Homo sapiens: one gene and its partners. The protein of the gene in region 4 purifies or fractionates together with the protein of the main gene of each other region. This does not show direct contact. Each region holds a gene or a part of one and is shown on either strand. Other genes may lie near its edges.

The links. The genes of interacting proteins can lie anywhere in the genome.
Region 1: the proteins of PPP1R18 (region 4) and ZDHHC5 purify together in Homo sapiens (co-immunoprecipitation; one large-scale study listed by IntAct). This does not show direct contact.
Region 2: the proteins of PPP1R18 (region 4) and RASIP1 purify together in Homo sapiens (affinity purification with mass spectrometry; 3 studies listed by BioGRID and IntAct, with this or other methods). This does not show direct contact.
Region 3: the proteins of PPP1R18 (region 4) and OGA purify together in Homo sapiens (affinity purification with mass spectrometry; 3 studies listed by BioGRID and IntAct, with this or other methods). This does not show direct contact.

What each region holds. Positions count from the first base shown.
Region 1 is NC_000011.10:57,695,614-57,699,113, forward strand, and holds part of ZDHHC5 (palmitoyltransferase ZDHHC5), read left to right. Parts: intron 1-306; coding exon 307-430; intron 431-1,147; coding exon 1,148-1,260; intron 1,261-2,945; coding exon 2,946-3,500. UniProt on the Homo sapiens protein: Palmitoyltransferase that catalyzes the addition of palmitate onto various protein substrates such as CTNND2, CD36, GSDMD, NLRP3, NOD1, NOD2, STAT3 and S1PR1 thus plays a role in various biological processes including cell adhesion, inflammation, fatty acid uptake, bacterial sensing or cardiac functions.
Region 2 is NC_000019.10:48,734,111-48,737,610, reverse strand, and holds part of RASIP1 (ras-interacting protein 1), read left to right. Parts: intron 1-2,059; coding exon 2,060-2,415; intron 2,416-3,500. UniProt on the Homo sapiens protein: Required for the proper formation of vascular structures that develop via both vasculogenesis and angiogenesis.
Region 3 is NC_000010.11:101,808,445-101,811,944, reverse strand, and holds part of OGA (protein O-GlcNAcase), read left to right. Parts: intron 1-1,630; coding exon 1,631-1,761; intron 1,762-3,500.
Region 4 is NC_000006.12:30,683,846-30,687,810, forward strand, and holds the start of PPP1R18 (phostensin), read right to left. Parts: upstream 2,801-3,965; 5' UTR 2,202-2,800; coding exon of another isoform or gene 2,174-2,201; coding exon 563-2,173; intron 1-562.

The sequences.
Region 1 (3,500 bases), on a different chromosome or scaffold from region 4:
CCCCATCTCTACAAAATAAAGTAAAATAAATTAACTGGGTGTGGTGGCATGTGCCTGTAATCCCAGCTACTTGGGAGGCTGAGGTGGGAAGAGCACTTGAGCCTAGGAGTTGCAGGCTGCAGTGAACATGATCATGCGTACCACTGTACTCCAGCCTGGTCAACAGAGTGAGACCTTGTCTCAAAAAAAAAAAAAAAATACATGAGAATTGACTCCCAAATACCTCCCTCTTATATCAATTTAATACTTTGAGTTGCCATAATGCTCAATTTCTAAATCTGATTTTCCCTCCCTTCATCAATCCAGTCTAAGGGAAGCCTGGAGATAACAGAGAGCCAGTCTGCAGATGCTGAACCTCCACCTCCTCCTAAGCCAGACCTGAGCCGTTACACAGGGTTGCGAACACACCTCGGCTTGGCTACTAATGAGGGTAAGGGCTGCCTTGATTTGCAAGATACTAGAACTAGGGGCAGGATTGAGAAGGTTGCTTATGAGCTGTGGAAGACAGGCAAGGGCTGGGAGATATTACTCGTGTTGTGACTTTAAACACCCAACAGTTGGTACTTGTGCTACTTTGCAACTGAAAGAGAAGAGAGGCCATTTAGCTATTGGCAGTGAATGGGACTTTTGCCGGGAAAATGGTCAGCCTCTAGGCAGACCAGAGAACATCACAGAACCTTTTTGGTGCATTTACCCACCCTGAATTCTGGGCTGGTGTGAGTCTTTAAAAGTCTTGATTTCAGCGAAGGGTATATCTATTCCTACCTTGTCCTCTCCCTGTACTTAAGGAACCCTAGGCAGATAAAGTGAACAACTCATAGACTAGACGCAGTGGCTCACACCTGTGATCCCAGCACTTTGGGAGGCCAACGCAGGAGGATTGCTTGAGCCCAGGAGTTCAAGACCACCCTGGGCAACATAGCAAGACTCTGTCTCTACAAAAAATTTAAAAAAGTTAGCTGGGCATGGTGGCATATGCCTGCAGTCCCAGCTACTCAGGAGGCTGAGGTGGGAGCCCAGGAGTTCAAGGCTCCAGTGAGCTATAATCGTGCCACTGCACTCTAGCTTGGACAGTAGAGTGAGACCCTGTCTCTTAAACCAAAAAACCGCTTGTAAAATAGTGCCCCCTTGGCCTTTTTTCTTGCAGATAGTAGCTTATTGGCCAAGGACAGCCCCCCGACACCTACCATGTACAAGTATCGGCCGGGTTACAGTAGCAGCAGTACGTCAGCTGCCATGCCGCATTCCTCCAGCGCCAAGGTACTGAGTACTCTAAGAGGTGGGGTAATAACATGCCAACTGGCCAGGCACAGTGGCTCATTCCTGTAATCCCAGCACTTTGGGAGCCCAAGGTGGGTGGATCACAAGGTCAAGAGATTGAGACCGTCCTGGCCAACATGGTGAAACCCCGTCTCTACTAAAAATACAAAAATTAGGCCAGGCGTGGTGGCTCACGCCTGTAATCCCAGCACTTTGGGAGGCCGAGACTGGTGGATCACAAGGTCAGGAGTTCGAGACCAGCCTGGCTAATGTGGTGAAACCCCATCTCTACTAAAAATACAAAAATTGCCGGGCACAGTGGCTCACGCCTGTAATCCCAGCACTTTGGGAGGCTGAGGCAGGTGAATCACGAGGTCAGGAGATTGAGACCATCCTGGCTAACATGGTGAAACCCCGTCTCTACTAAAAATACAAAAAAATTAGCCAGGCATGGTGGCAGGTGCCTGTAGTCCCAGCTACTCGGGAGGCTGAGCCAGGAGAATGGCGTGAACCCAGGAAGCGGAGCTTGCAGTTAGCCGAGATCATGCCACTGCACTCCAGCCTGGGCAGCAGAGCGAGACCGCATCTCAAAAAAAAAATAAATAAATAAATACAAAAATTATCTGGGCGTGGTGGGGGGGCACCTGTAATCCCAGCTATTCGGGAGGCTGAGGCAGGAGAATCACTTGAATCTGGGAGGTGGAGGTGGCAGTGAGTCGAGATTGCGCCACTGCACTCCAGTCTGGGTGACAGAGTGAGAGTCCATCTCAAAAAAAAAAAAAAAAAATTAGCTGGTAGTGGTATGCATCTGTAGTCCCAGCTACTTGGCAGGCTGAGGCAAGGAGAATCGCTTGAACCTGGGAGGAGAATTGCTTGAACCTGGGAGGTGGAGGCTGCAGTGAGCTGAGCTCCCACTGCTGTATTCCAGTCTGGTGACAGAGTGAGACTACACCTCAAAAAAAAAAAAAAAAAAAAAAAGGCCAAGCACAGTGGCTCAAGCCTGTAATCCCAGCACTTGGGGAGGCTGAGGCAGACGGACCACCCGAGGTCAGGAGTTTGAGACCAGCCTGGCCAACTTGGTGAAACCCTGTCTCTACTAAAAATACAAAAATTAGCTGGGCGTGGTGGCGGGGCGCCTGTAATCCCAGCTACTCGGGAAGCTGAGGCAGGAGAATCGTTTGAACCTGGGAGGCTGAGGTTGCAGTGAGCCAAGATTGCACCATCACGCTCCAGCCTGGGCTTAAAACACACACACACACACACACACACACACACAAACAAATGCCAACTGTTACGGGAAAAAAAGAAGATTAGGGGAAGGAAAAGGCAGAAGAAAGGACATTTCACTAATTGTTGGCATTCGTGGAACTCAATCTCCTTGATACTGTGTCCTTCATCAGACTGGGCAATATAGCATAATAGATTAGTGCTTGATCCGAGTTTATAACCCAGTTCTGCCCACGGGCGAGATACTCAGCCTTTCTACGTCTTGCTTTCTGTATCTGAAAAGGAGATGATATTTGCCTGAATTCAGTTTTTCTTGAGGGATTAACCCAGATAATGCATGTAAGAGTTCTAAGCTTATTATTGGCACATAATTCTCTTTTTGACCAACTCCTTGAGCTCTGGGGTCTAGCTTCTGTCACAAAAGGAGCACTAAGAGCCTGCTTTACTTTCTTCCTCAGTTGAGTCGTGGGGACAGCTTGAAGGAGCCAACCTCAATTGCAGAGAGCAGCCGTCACCCCAGCTACCGCTCAGAGCCCAGCTTGGAACCAGAGAGCTTCCGTTCTCCTACCTTTGGCAAAAGTTTTCACTTCGATCCACTATCCAGTGGCTCACGCTCCTCCAGCCTCAAGTCAGCCCAGGGCACAGGCTTTGAGCTGGGCCAGTTGCAATCCATTCGTTCAGAGGGCACCACCTCCACCTCCTATAAGAGCCTGGCCAACCAGACACGCAATGGAAGCCTATCTTATGACAGCTTGCTCACACCTTCAGACAGCCCTGATTTTGAGTCAGTGCAGGCAGGGCCTGAGCCAGACCCACCTTTAGGCTATACCTCTCCCTTCCTGTCAGCCAGGCTGGCCCAGCAACGGGAAGCTGAGAGGCACCCACGTTTGGTGCCAACTGGCCCAACACACCGAGAGCCCTCACCAGTCCGTTACGACAATCTGTCGCGCCACATTGTGGCCTCTCTCCAGGAACGAGAGAAGTTGCTGCGCCAGTCACCCCCACTCCCGGGC
Region 2 (3,500 bases), on a different chromosome or scaffold from region 4:
ATCAGGCCTGCTGGGACTAAGATGGGCGGAGCCGCTGAGGGGCCGGCCTTGGATAAGACGGCCTTAGGCTGGGTTGGCTGCCAAGTGGGATCACATGGGAAAGGAAGGGGCTGAAGGAAGATATCACTGTAGAGGCGAAGGAAGGCCTGGAACAGAAGGTAGAGTCAATGGTCAAACAGCTGGTGGTGGACCGCGCCTGGCAGGGGTGGGGCCTGGCGCATTGAAAGCACGGGTCTGCTCAGGGAGCCTTCTAAACGCTTTTCTGTATCTGAGCTTCCTTTTGGGAGATAGAATGTTGTAGCAATTCAACTGATGGGCTTTGAACTGGGGTTTGAATTCCAACCCATTCTGTGCCAGTTAATCTCAGTAAAATCCTAGGTGAGGATTCAATGGGATAATATATTCAATGTATATAAAGGGCCTAGCACAGGGCTTGGCACAGAGTAGGTGCTTAATAAAGAATGACGATTATAAGCATTGTCTCCGCCACCCCCTCGACAAAGTATCCATTGAGCACCTGGTGTAGGCCACACATTTTCCTTTTTGTTTTTTTGTTGTTGTTGTCGTTGTTGTTCGAGATGGAGTCTTGCTCTGTTGCCCAGGCTGGAGTGCAGTGGCACGATCATGGCTCACTGCGACCTCCACCTCCCGGTTCAAGCAATTCTCCTGCCTCAGCCTCCCGAATAGCTGGGATTACAGGTGCCCACTACCACGCCTGGCTGATTTTTTGTATTTTGAGTAGAGATGGGGGTTTCGCCATGTTGGTCAGGCTGGTCTCGAATTCCTGACCTCAAGTGATCCACCCACCTCAGCCTCCCAAAGTACTGGGATTACAGGCGTGAGCCACCGCGCCCAGCCTGGCCACACAGTTTTCGGGGCACTGGGGAATACAGTGGGGACGTTGACAGATGAGGTTTCCACCCTCCCATATCTCACAAGCCTAGTGGGAAACACATCAGTCCATTCATTCAGCTCATTTCCCCTTGGTGCCTACTGTGTGCCAGGGTTCCAGCTGGGTCCAGAAAAAGCTCAGAGTACCCAGTGGTGCAGTCACCTGCTTCAACTTGGACTGTCAGGGAAGGGTGTTTAGGAAGAGGTGGTTTCAATCTCCTGGAGGGCAGGGTCTTCTCTGTTATCCAGTGACTTGAACAGTTCTAAGCATGTAGTAGGTAGTCAATAAATACTTGTTTTGTTTTGTTTTGTTTTTTGAGACGGAGTCTTGCTCTGTCGCCCAGGCTAGAGTGCAGTGGCACGATCTCGGCTCACTGCAAGCTCCGCCTCCCGGGTTCACGCCATTCTCCTGCCTCAGCCTCCCGAGTAGCTGGGACTACAGGCACCTGCCACATTTTTTGTATTTTTAGTAGAGACGGGGTTTCACCGTGTTAGCCAAGATGGTCTCGATCTCCTGACCTTGTGATCCGCCCGCCTCAGCCTCCCAAAGTGCTGGGATTACACGCGTGAGCCACCGCACCCGGCCTAAATACTTGTTAAAAGAACAAATGGGCTGGGCGCTGTGGCTCATGCCTGTAATCCCAGCACTTTGGGAGGCTGAGACGGGAGGATCACAAGGTCAGGAGTTCGAGACCGACCAGTCCGAGACCAGCCTGGCCAACATGGTGAAAACCCATCTATACTAAAAATACAAAAATTAACCGGGCGTTGTGGTGCGCGCCTGTAATCCCAGCTACTTGGGAGGCTGAGGCAGGAGAATTGCTTGAACCTGGGAGGCAGAGGTTGCAGTGAGCCGAGATCGTGCCACTGCACTCCAGCCTGGGCGACAGAGCGAGACTACGTATTGAAATAAAAAAAAAAAAAAAGAAGAACAAATGATTCAATGGAAAAGAATGAATGAAATTCCTGAGCTGAAAACTGCAAGATGGGTATTAATCAGGACAGAAAGGTGTTCCACGCACAGGGAACAGAATATGCAAAAGCCTAAATCCTAAATGTGGGAAGCAGCCTCACCTCTCTGCAACCAGTTCTTTGTCTCATAATCTGCAGCTCTGTGTCTATCCCTGTCTTTCCAGGCTCAGCCTCACTGTTCTCCATCTCTCCGCAGGCACCGGCGCCCCTTCGTGGCGGCCACAGAAGAACCGCTCCCGGGCGGCGTCGGGTGGGGCAGCGCTGGCCAGTCCTGGCCCGGGGACCGGATCAGGGGCCCCAGCTGGGTCTGGAGGCAAGGAGCGCTCAGAAAACTTGTCTTTGCGGCGCAGCGTGTCGGAGCTTAGCCTTCAGGGGCGGCGGCGGCGGCAGCAGGAGCGGAGACAGCAGGCACTTAGCATGGCCCCAGGGGCAGCCGACGCCCAAATCGGAACTGCAGACCCCGGGGACTTCGATCAGTTGACTCAGTGCCTCATCCAGGCCCCCAGCAACCGCCCCTACTTCCTGCTGCTCCAGGGCTACCAGGACGCCCAGGTAACCGCCGCCCCAGCCCCGCACGCCCAGAGCCCTATACCCCATCTGTTGGTGGGTGAGCAACAAAACTACAACTCCCAGAAGGCCCGGGGCGCGCTAGCCTCAAGTACTCTAGTGGGGCGTGGTCCCTCAAGGTTCCAGAGTAGAGATTCACAGGAGAGGGAGAGTAGATGGCTGAGAAAGAGTCCAATGGAGGAGGAAATAGGGAATAGTTCACTTTATTCAAAGTTGGAGGAAAGCACTGTCTTCATTAAGGAGATTCCATTGTAGAAAGAAGATCCCCGCCAGGCGTGCGGCTGACTCTCATAATCCCAGCACTTTGGGAGGTCAAGGTGGAAGAATTGCTTGAGGCCAAAAGTTCGAGACCAGCCTGGACAACATAGTGAGATCCTGTCTCTACCAAAAATTAGGCCTGGCGCAGTGGCTCACGCCTGTTATCCCAGCACTTTGGGAGGCCTTGGTGGGTGGATCACCTGAGGTTGGGAGTTCAAGACCAACCTGACCAACATGGAGAAACCCTGTATGTACTAAAAATACAAAATTAGCCGGGTGTGGTGGCGCACGCCTGTAATCCCAGCTACTCAGGAGGCTGAGGCAGGGGAATCGTTTGAACCCGGAAGGCAGAGGTTGCGGTGAGCCAAGATCGTTCCATTGCACTCCAGCCAGGGAGACAGAGCAAGACTCTGTCTCAAAAAAAAAAAAAAAGAAAGAAAAAAAAGCCGGGCGTGGTGGTGTGCACCTGTGGTCCCAGCTACTCGGGAGACTGAGGCAGGAGGATCTCTTGAGCTCAGGAGGTCGAGGCTTCCGTGAGCTATGATGGCACCACTGTACCATCACCAGCCTGGGTGACACACAAAGGCCCTGTCTCCAAAATAAATTTTTTTAATAAACTTTTTTTTTTTTGTCGGAGTCTCTCTCTGTCGCCCAGGCTGGACTCCAGTGGCGCGATCTCGGCTCACTGCAAGCTCTGTCTCCTGGGTTCACGCCATTCTCCTGCCTCAGCCTCCCGAGTAGCTGGGACTACAGGCGCCCGCCACCATGCCCAGCTAATTTTTTTGTATTTTTAGTAGAGATGAGGTTTCACC
Region 3 (3,500 bases), on a different chromosome or scaffold from region 4:
CTGGTAATGAAACTTAATGTGATCAATAATCAAAATAGAGTAAAAATGACTATCTTGAGATACTACTGAAAATTATTCAAAAATATGTCTTATAGTATATACTAGTAGTAGTTAAGTTGATTTAGGAAAATTGTCAATTGATAATTTTAAAAGGTTAAAATCTATAATTAATGTTTTTCCCATAGATAGAAACAGGTCAAGATTGTTAAGGCCATGACTTAACTCTGGTTCTTTTTCTTTTTCTTTTTTTGGAGACAGCGTTTGTCACTTTGTTACCCAGGCTGGAGTGCAGTGACTCACTGCAATTTTGATCTCCCCGGCTCAAGCAATCCTCCCGCCTCAGTCCCCCAAGTAGCTGGGACTACAAGCGCGGGTCACCACACCCAGCTAATTTTTGTATATTTTGTAGAGAGAGGGGTTTGCCATGTTGCCTGTGCTGGTCTCAAACTCCTGAACTCAAGCAGTCAACTTGCCGTGGCCTCTCAAAGTGCTGGGATTACAGGTGTGATTCATTTTTTTTTTTTTTTTTTTTTTTTTTCATTTTTTTTCATTTTTTGAGATGGAGTCTTGCTGTGTCGTCCAGACTGGGGTGCAGTGGTGCGATCTTGGCTCACTGCAACCTCTGCCTCCAGGGTTCAAGCAATTCTCCTGCCTCAGCCTCCCTAGTAGTTGGGATTACAAGTATGCGCCACCACGCCTGGCTAATTTTTGTATTTTTAGTAGAGATGGGGTTTCACAATGTTGACCAGGCTGGTCTCAAACTCCTGACCTCAGGCAGTCCTCCTGCCTGGCCTCCCAAAGTCCTGGGGTTACAGGCATGAGCCATTGGGCCTGGCCTACCCTGATTCTTAAGAAAGCATTTTCTTTCTTTCATATTATAAAGTAGTTATGTGTAGGTTTATTTAGTTAGGAATTCCAGCTGTTCAGAGATGGCAAAACAAAAAAAAAAAGCAAGATCCAGTACCATGGCTCATGCCTGCAATCCCAACACTGTAAGAGGCTAAGGCAGGCGGATCACTTGAGGCCAGGAGTTCGAGACCAGCCTGGGCAATATGGCAAAACCCTCATCTCTACTAAACAAAAATTAGCCGGGTATGCCTGTAATCCCACCTACTCAGGAGGTGGAGGTTGCAGTGAGTCAGGATCGTGCCACTGCACTCCAGCCTTGGGCAACAGAGCAAGGCTCTCAAAATAAAAAAGCAGCGGCTGCATTTTATGCCTTTCAAATGCTGCAGGAAATAGAAATGGCTTAAGTTCAGTAAGAGAATTGACAATTCAGTGTTTTTGAGAAGTGGCAATGAAAGGGAGGAAAATGTTTATTGATTTTAGCCTGTTTCCCCAAAAGGATAAGAAACTATTTGGAAGTGAAAAAGAAGGGCCTCTTATTTTCTGTTGGTTCAGATTTCAAAGGTGTGAAAACTATTCTTTTTCCCTTACTGTGACATTAAATCACTTCAGGCTTGTACCATTTTGTATGGCCTGTTGTTAAGTTGGACATGACAATTTGTAAAATGTGAGGATCTTTTCCTTTCTTGTAAGTTAGAAGAAATAACCTCTTCAGTTAAACCTTCAGTGAAGGTTCTTTTAGTTTTCTGTTCTGCTTTCTAAAAACATAGACTCTGTTCTTTAGAGCAACTTATGACTCTCATCTCTGCTGCACGAGAATATGAGATAGAGTTCATCTATGCGATCTCACCTGGATTGGATATCACTTTTTCTAACCCCAAGGAAGTATCCACATTGAAACGTAAATTGGACCAGGTAACTCCTTACTTTTTATTCATTTTTCCTGACTATGTACTTGAAACTAGAAGTTTACTCAGTTGCTTTTACGATGTTAAAAGGAAATCAAATTCCTATTTCTTTGTTTTCTTTTTTTGTTTGTTTGTTTTGTTTTTTGAGACAGAGTCTTGCTCTGTCGCCCAGACTGGAGTGCAGTGGCACAATCTCGGCTCACTGCAACCTCCTCCGCCTCCCGGGTTCAAGTGATTCTCCTGCCTCAGCTTCCCGAGTAGCTGGGACTATAGGTGCGTGCCATCATGCCTGGCTAATTTTTGTATTTTTAGTAGAGACAGGGCCTTCACCATGCCAGCCAGGCTGGTCTCGAACTGCTCACCTCATGATCTTCCCAAAGTGCTGGGATTACAGGTGTGAGTCACCATGCCTGGTTTTTTATTTCTTTGTTTCTATAAGAATTTTTTTTACTTTGAATGCTTTTTTTTTCTTTTTTTTTTTTTTTGAGACAGAGTCTTGCCCTGTTGCCTGGAGTGCAGTGGCCCAATCTCGGCTCACTGCAACCTCCACCTCCCAAGTTCAAGCGATTCTCATGCCTCAGCCTCCTGAGTAGCTGTTACAGGCACACCACCATGCCTGGCTAATTTTTATATTTTTAGTAGAGACAGGGTTTTGCCACGTTGGCCAGGCTGGTCTCGAACTCCTGACTTTAGGTGATTCACCCACTTCAGCCTCCCAGAGTGCCGGGATTACAGTCGTGCGCCAGTGCACCCAGCCTTGAATCCTTCTGATAGAGGAATATTTTCCAAATTAAGTAAAAAGAGCTTTACTGGAGGTACTAGTTCTTCTCAAATTTCAGTTTGCATAAGAACTGCCTTAAAAGAATGATTAGAAGTGAAGCTTGGAAGAATGCTGACTGCTGGACTTTATTTCCCAAATGGATAAGGTGGGGACCGGGAATCTAGGTGATTGGTGGTCAAGAACCACATTTTGAGAAATTATATATACCCTAGGCTGCTTGGCTTGAATTTACACCTGAGATTACAGAAACAGGGTTTTACCTATTAGACATTAGTTTCTTCAATTATATGGACGAAGAGATGTCTGGAAATGGCTAGTTTCCCAAGATGAGAAGAAAAACAGACTAGGTGAACCTAATTGAGTGTAAAGTCTGCTTAATGTAAAAGCTGCAGACTTCCTTTGGTCCAATGTAGGGGGCTTCCATTTTCCTTTTTTTTTTTGAAACTGAGTCTTGCTCTGTCGCCCAGGCTGGAGTGCAGTGGCGCGATCTCAGCTCATTGCAACCTCTACCTCCTGGGTTCAAGCAATTCTCTGGCCTCAGCCTCCTGAGTAACGGGGATTACAGGCATGTGCTACCACACCTGGCTAATTTTTTTGTATTTTTAGTAGAGATGGGGTTTCACCATGTTTGCCAGGCTGGTCTCGAACTCCTAACCTCATGGTTTGCCCGCCTCGGCCTCCCAAAGTGCTGGGATTACAAGTGTGAGCCACTGCGCCCGGCCCCATTTTTCTGTTATTTTAGTTTGCTGGTTTTTCTATATACATGTCTTATTTCTTTAGGCAAAGATTTATATGGGTGGCATTAAAATGTCTGGTAAAAAATTTAAGGCAGTTGAAATTTTCATGAATGAAGTTATTTTACTATTTGATAAAATTCTATTCTTTCTGATTCATACCTGGTTAGGTTTATCTGCAAAGGGATCAGTGTGCCTTTTGGGACTAGGACACAGCCTGGCTTTTTCATG
Region 4 (3,965 bases):
TCCATCCTAGGATGTCCCTATTCAGCTCTGCCCTCCTTCCCACGGGGCAGTTGGACCTTTCTCCATTCACTTCTCCCTGCAGTTTCTCCCTAGAACACAAACCCACCCCACCCCCTCCACCACCCCAGGCTCCCTATCCCTTCTCCCCAGAAAAACTGCAAGTGCTCTCACCCTGGTGACCCTGCCCTCACTGATTCAAGCTCGTCACTTTAGGCTCTCCCACTGGATGGGCTGGGGCAGGTCACACTCAGGAAAGGAAGGAAAGAAAAGGGGGTTGGAAACTCAGAGCCCAAGGGAAGGGAGAATGAGCAGCCTGGCACACCCTGAAAGAGACACACCCAGAGACAGCCTTTGCTGGGGCAGGATCTTTTGGGCTCAAAATGGAAAAGGAGGGCTCTGAGAAGGAAGGGTGTATGTGCAGAGCGAGGAAGGGTGGTGGCAGGAATTAACAAGAAAGAATAGAGGAAGACAAGAAAACAGGGGTATAAAAAAGAAAGAGACCAGAGTCCAGAGAAAATTGACAAGTGGACTTCTAAGAAGTCTGGCTTGGCTGCTTCCCTACCTGTTTGTGGTGTCTTTCGGGGGACCCCTTGGCAAGGCAGCTGCGGCTGAGACGGAGGTAGCCCCCCAGAACCAAGATCTCCTCGGCAGTTGGGTACCGCTTCTTCCCAGCCCCCGGGACTGCAGCATCAACTGTGGCTGGAGAGGTTGGGGTGGCTGGGGTCGCAGGGGGCACAGACCGCCGGGGGTTGACGGTGAAGGTGTGTCCACTGCGGCGGGGGGCCCCCACCCCTGGCCCTGCCTTCACCCCATAGAACAGGCGGCTCATGAGGGGATCCCCAGGAGGTTGGGGGGCAGTTGGGGCTGGGGGTGGGGGAGACAGAGGGGCTGGTGGTGGGGGCTGGAGCTCCACTGCTTCCTCTTCCTGCTGTCTCAGGCCTCCAGTCCCAGCGTCCTCTGGTGGGAGGGGGGAGGGCACAGAGCAGCAGTTCTGCAGGGCTCTCAGAGGCCTGCCCTGAGCCCCCGCCTCCTCCTTCTCAGCCTCCCCTTCTCCAGCCTCCACACCGGGAGATTCCAGAAGCTTCTCTGCTGACTCTGGAGGTTCTGGTTTCTGAGTTTGAGCCTCTATGTCCCTGGGTGTCCATTCTCGAGCCTTCCCGGAGTTCAGGGTCCATTTCCACCCTTCTGTTGGCTTCATGCCCCTCTCGCCATCTTCCACAGGCCTCTGCTCTGCTGCCTCCACTCCTGCGGAACTGTTGCCTTGGGCCTCCCTTGTCAGGGTCTCGGACAGCTCTGCAGTCTCTTTTGGAGCTACCCCTGGAACTGGCCACTCTTCTTTTCTCCCACATTCTTCCGAGTAGTCTTGTCTTTCTTCTCCTGACCTCAGCCTCCACTCTGTTGCCTCCAGTTGTACCAAACTCTGTTCCTGAGACTCTCTGGAGTCAGGTCTCCATTTATGGGCCTCTGTCAGGCCCAACTTCTGGTAGGCAGATTCCCCTGGGCTCAGTCTACTTTCCACCTCTTTTCTCCTGGGGCTTTGCTCTCGAGACTCTGCTAGTCTCAGACTCCGCTCTGGAGTTTCTCCAGGACTCAGCCTCCATTTCCATGCCTCTGACAGTCGGGAGCTCCTGTCTCCCACCTCTCCTGGGCTTTGCCTCCAGTCCCGAGCCTCCAGAGGCCTCAGGCTCAACTCTTGGGCTCCCCCTATCCCCAGCCTCCTCTCTCTGGTCTCCCTCGGACTTAGTCTCTCTTCTCTTGACTCTCTTCCCTTGGGGCTCTGATCCCGCATCTCCCCAGGGCTGGGTCTCCGCTCCCGGGCCTCCAGAGGCCCAGGCTTTCTCTCTGCTAGCAGCTCTTCACTCCGTTGTTGTTGCTGCTGCTGCTGCTGCCGCTCCTGCCGGATGAATCGGTTCTGGTGCACTGGCCCGATGGCCTCCAGAAGGACCGCAGACTCATCCGGGTCTGGAGGTCCAGCCTCTACAGTCCCTAGCACAGGGCTAGGCTCCCCAGGGGACAGCCCAAGCTTGGCCCGGCGGCGCTCCAGGAGCCCTCGTTTCCAGGCTGGCATCTGGGACAGGCGCTCCCGTTCTGCTTTCTCTCGGCCTCGAACGGACGCCTCCTCCTGCCGGCGCCGGGCTAGCAGCTGTAGCTTCCAGTCTGGGATGGTGGCCATGGTCGTCTTGAGGTGAGGGTAGGGAGCACTGGGGACAGAGAACAGGAAGGAGAGGCTCCAGAGAGTGAGACAGCCCGGGGGTGAGACTGAGGGTGGGAGGAGAGGAAGTGGAGGGGGAGAGGTGGGACACAAAGCAGGGCAGAGGGGCTAAGGATGAGGACAGAGGGAAAGACGGAAGGCAGAGAACTGGGGAAATGGAAAAAGTGAAGAGAAGTTGTGAGCCCAAGTTGGGGGTGGTGGGGGTGATGTGAGAGGAAGAGTCCGGATTGGAGGCAATGAGGGCAGGAGCCAGATGTGGCAGCACAGGGTTAATGCGTATTAAAGACCGTCTCTAGGATGTGAGAAAGAGAGAGAAGGGCGAAAAGGAAAGTTGGCGTGAGGGAGAAGAGAGAAATGTGGCAGGGGTGAGGGGAACCTGGGTGCAGGCCAGGCTGCCTCAGCGATACCCCAGGGAGGCTAGTGTGGGAAGGAAGGACCAGGAATCCCTGAAAGGACCAGGAGGCAACGGGACCTGAGGGGGTGTTGGGGAGGCAAGGAGGGGCGGAGAGCGAACAGGTCTAGAGGAGAAGGGAAACCAGGGAAGAGGGGAAAGGAGGGCGGCGGCAGCAGCCGGGCGCGTCTCAGCGCGGGCCCCAAAGGTCCCGGCTCCGCTTCCAGCACCGCTCGGGCCACGCCTCTCCCCAGCCCCCACCCCTCTGCCCCGCACTCCGCCCCCGAGGCGGGTCGGGGGAAATAGCCACCCCCGAGACTTTCGGAACCCGGGCGTCAGGGCTGCCAGCGCGTTCCCAGAACCCTGGCGTCCACCCCCACCCTGTCCTGTCACCACCGCCTGCCTCCCCCACCGACTGCCCCACGCGACCCCAGAGTGCCAAGGGCCGGCTCCATGTCTCTTCTCCCCGGCGCCTGCAAGTCCTGCGCCCCGTCCCCGCTCTCATGAAGCCGTGACAGAGCCGGCCGTCTCCACCCCGCTGTAGCCGCACAGACTGACAATCTCGGCACAAAGAGGAGACAGCCAAGGTCCGGGCCAGGGACGGGAGCAAGGACAGGGGCGAGGAGACACCCACTCCCCAAGTCTGAGCCCCTCAGTCAACTCACAGGCCGCGGGACCCCCGGGGGAGGGGGTGCGGAGGAGCCGGGCGTCCAGAGAGAGGAAGAGGAGGAGAGAGGGACCGAGGGAGATCCGGAGACTGGAGGGAGGGGAGGAGGGAGGGAGAGGAGGAGGGAAAGAGGCAGCAAAGGAGGAGGGACGGAGACAGAGACCAGGGGGCCGGGCGGGGGCGGCGACCGCTTTGTCTAAGGACAATGAGGAGAGGGAAGGGGGCGCAGGGCGGAGCCGAGGAGAGGGCGGGGCCTAGATCCCTCCCACCCCGCGTGGGACTCGCTGCGGGACTGCCCTCTTCTCGCCCCAACCACTGGTCCTCCGCTCTGTCCCCAGGGGCCCTCACCAGCTTCCCGCCCGGACACGCCAGGTGTCCAGATCCCTTCCCCCAGCTCGCCGACCCAGGGCGGTGGCCCGTGACTCAGGCCCCTCGTGGGACTTTGGGAGGAAGCGGCAGCTGCTCCGAGCGGGGCCCGCCCTTCCCATCTCCTGCCGCTCCTCCCTACGCTTTTGCCTTCTCATCTGGGTCTGTAGGTCCAGCCTCTGAAGTCCTTTGTTTTGCGGGGTCGAGGGCAGCCGCCAGGCTGTGGGGGGCTTTGTGGATGGGCGGCAGGAGAGGCGCTCAGAAGCCAGAGGTTTTGGATGCTCCCTCCCCTACCAGAGCTGCTGCCCCGACTCTTTCTAGCTTCAACC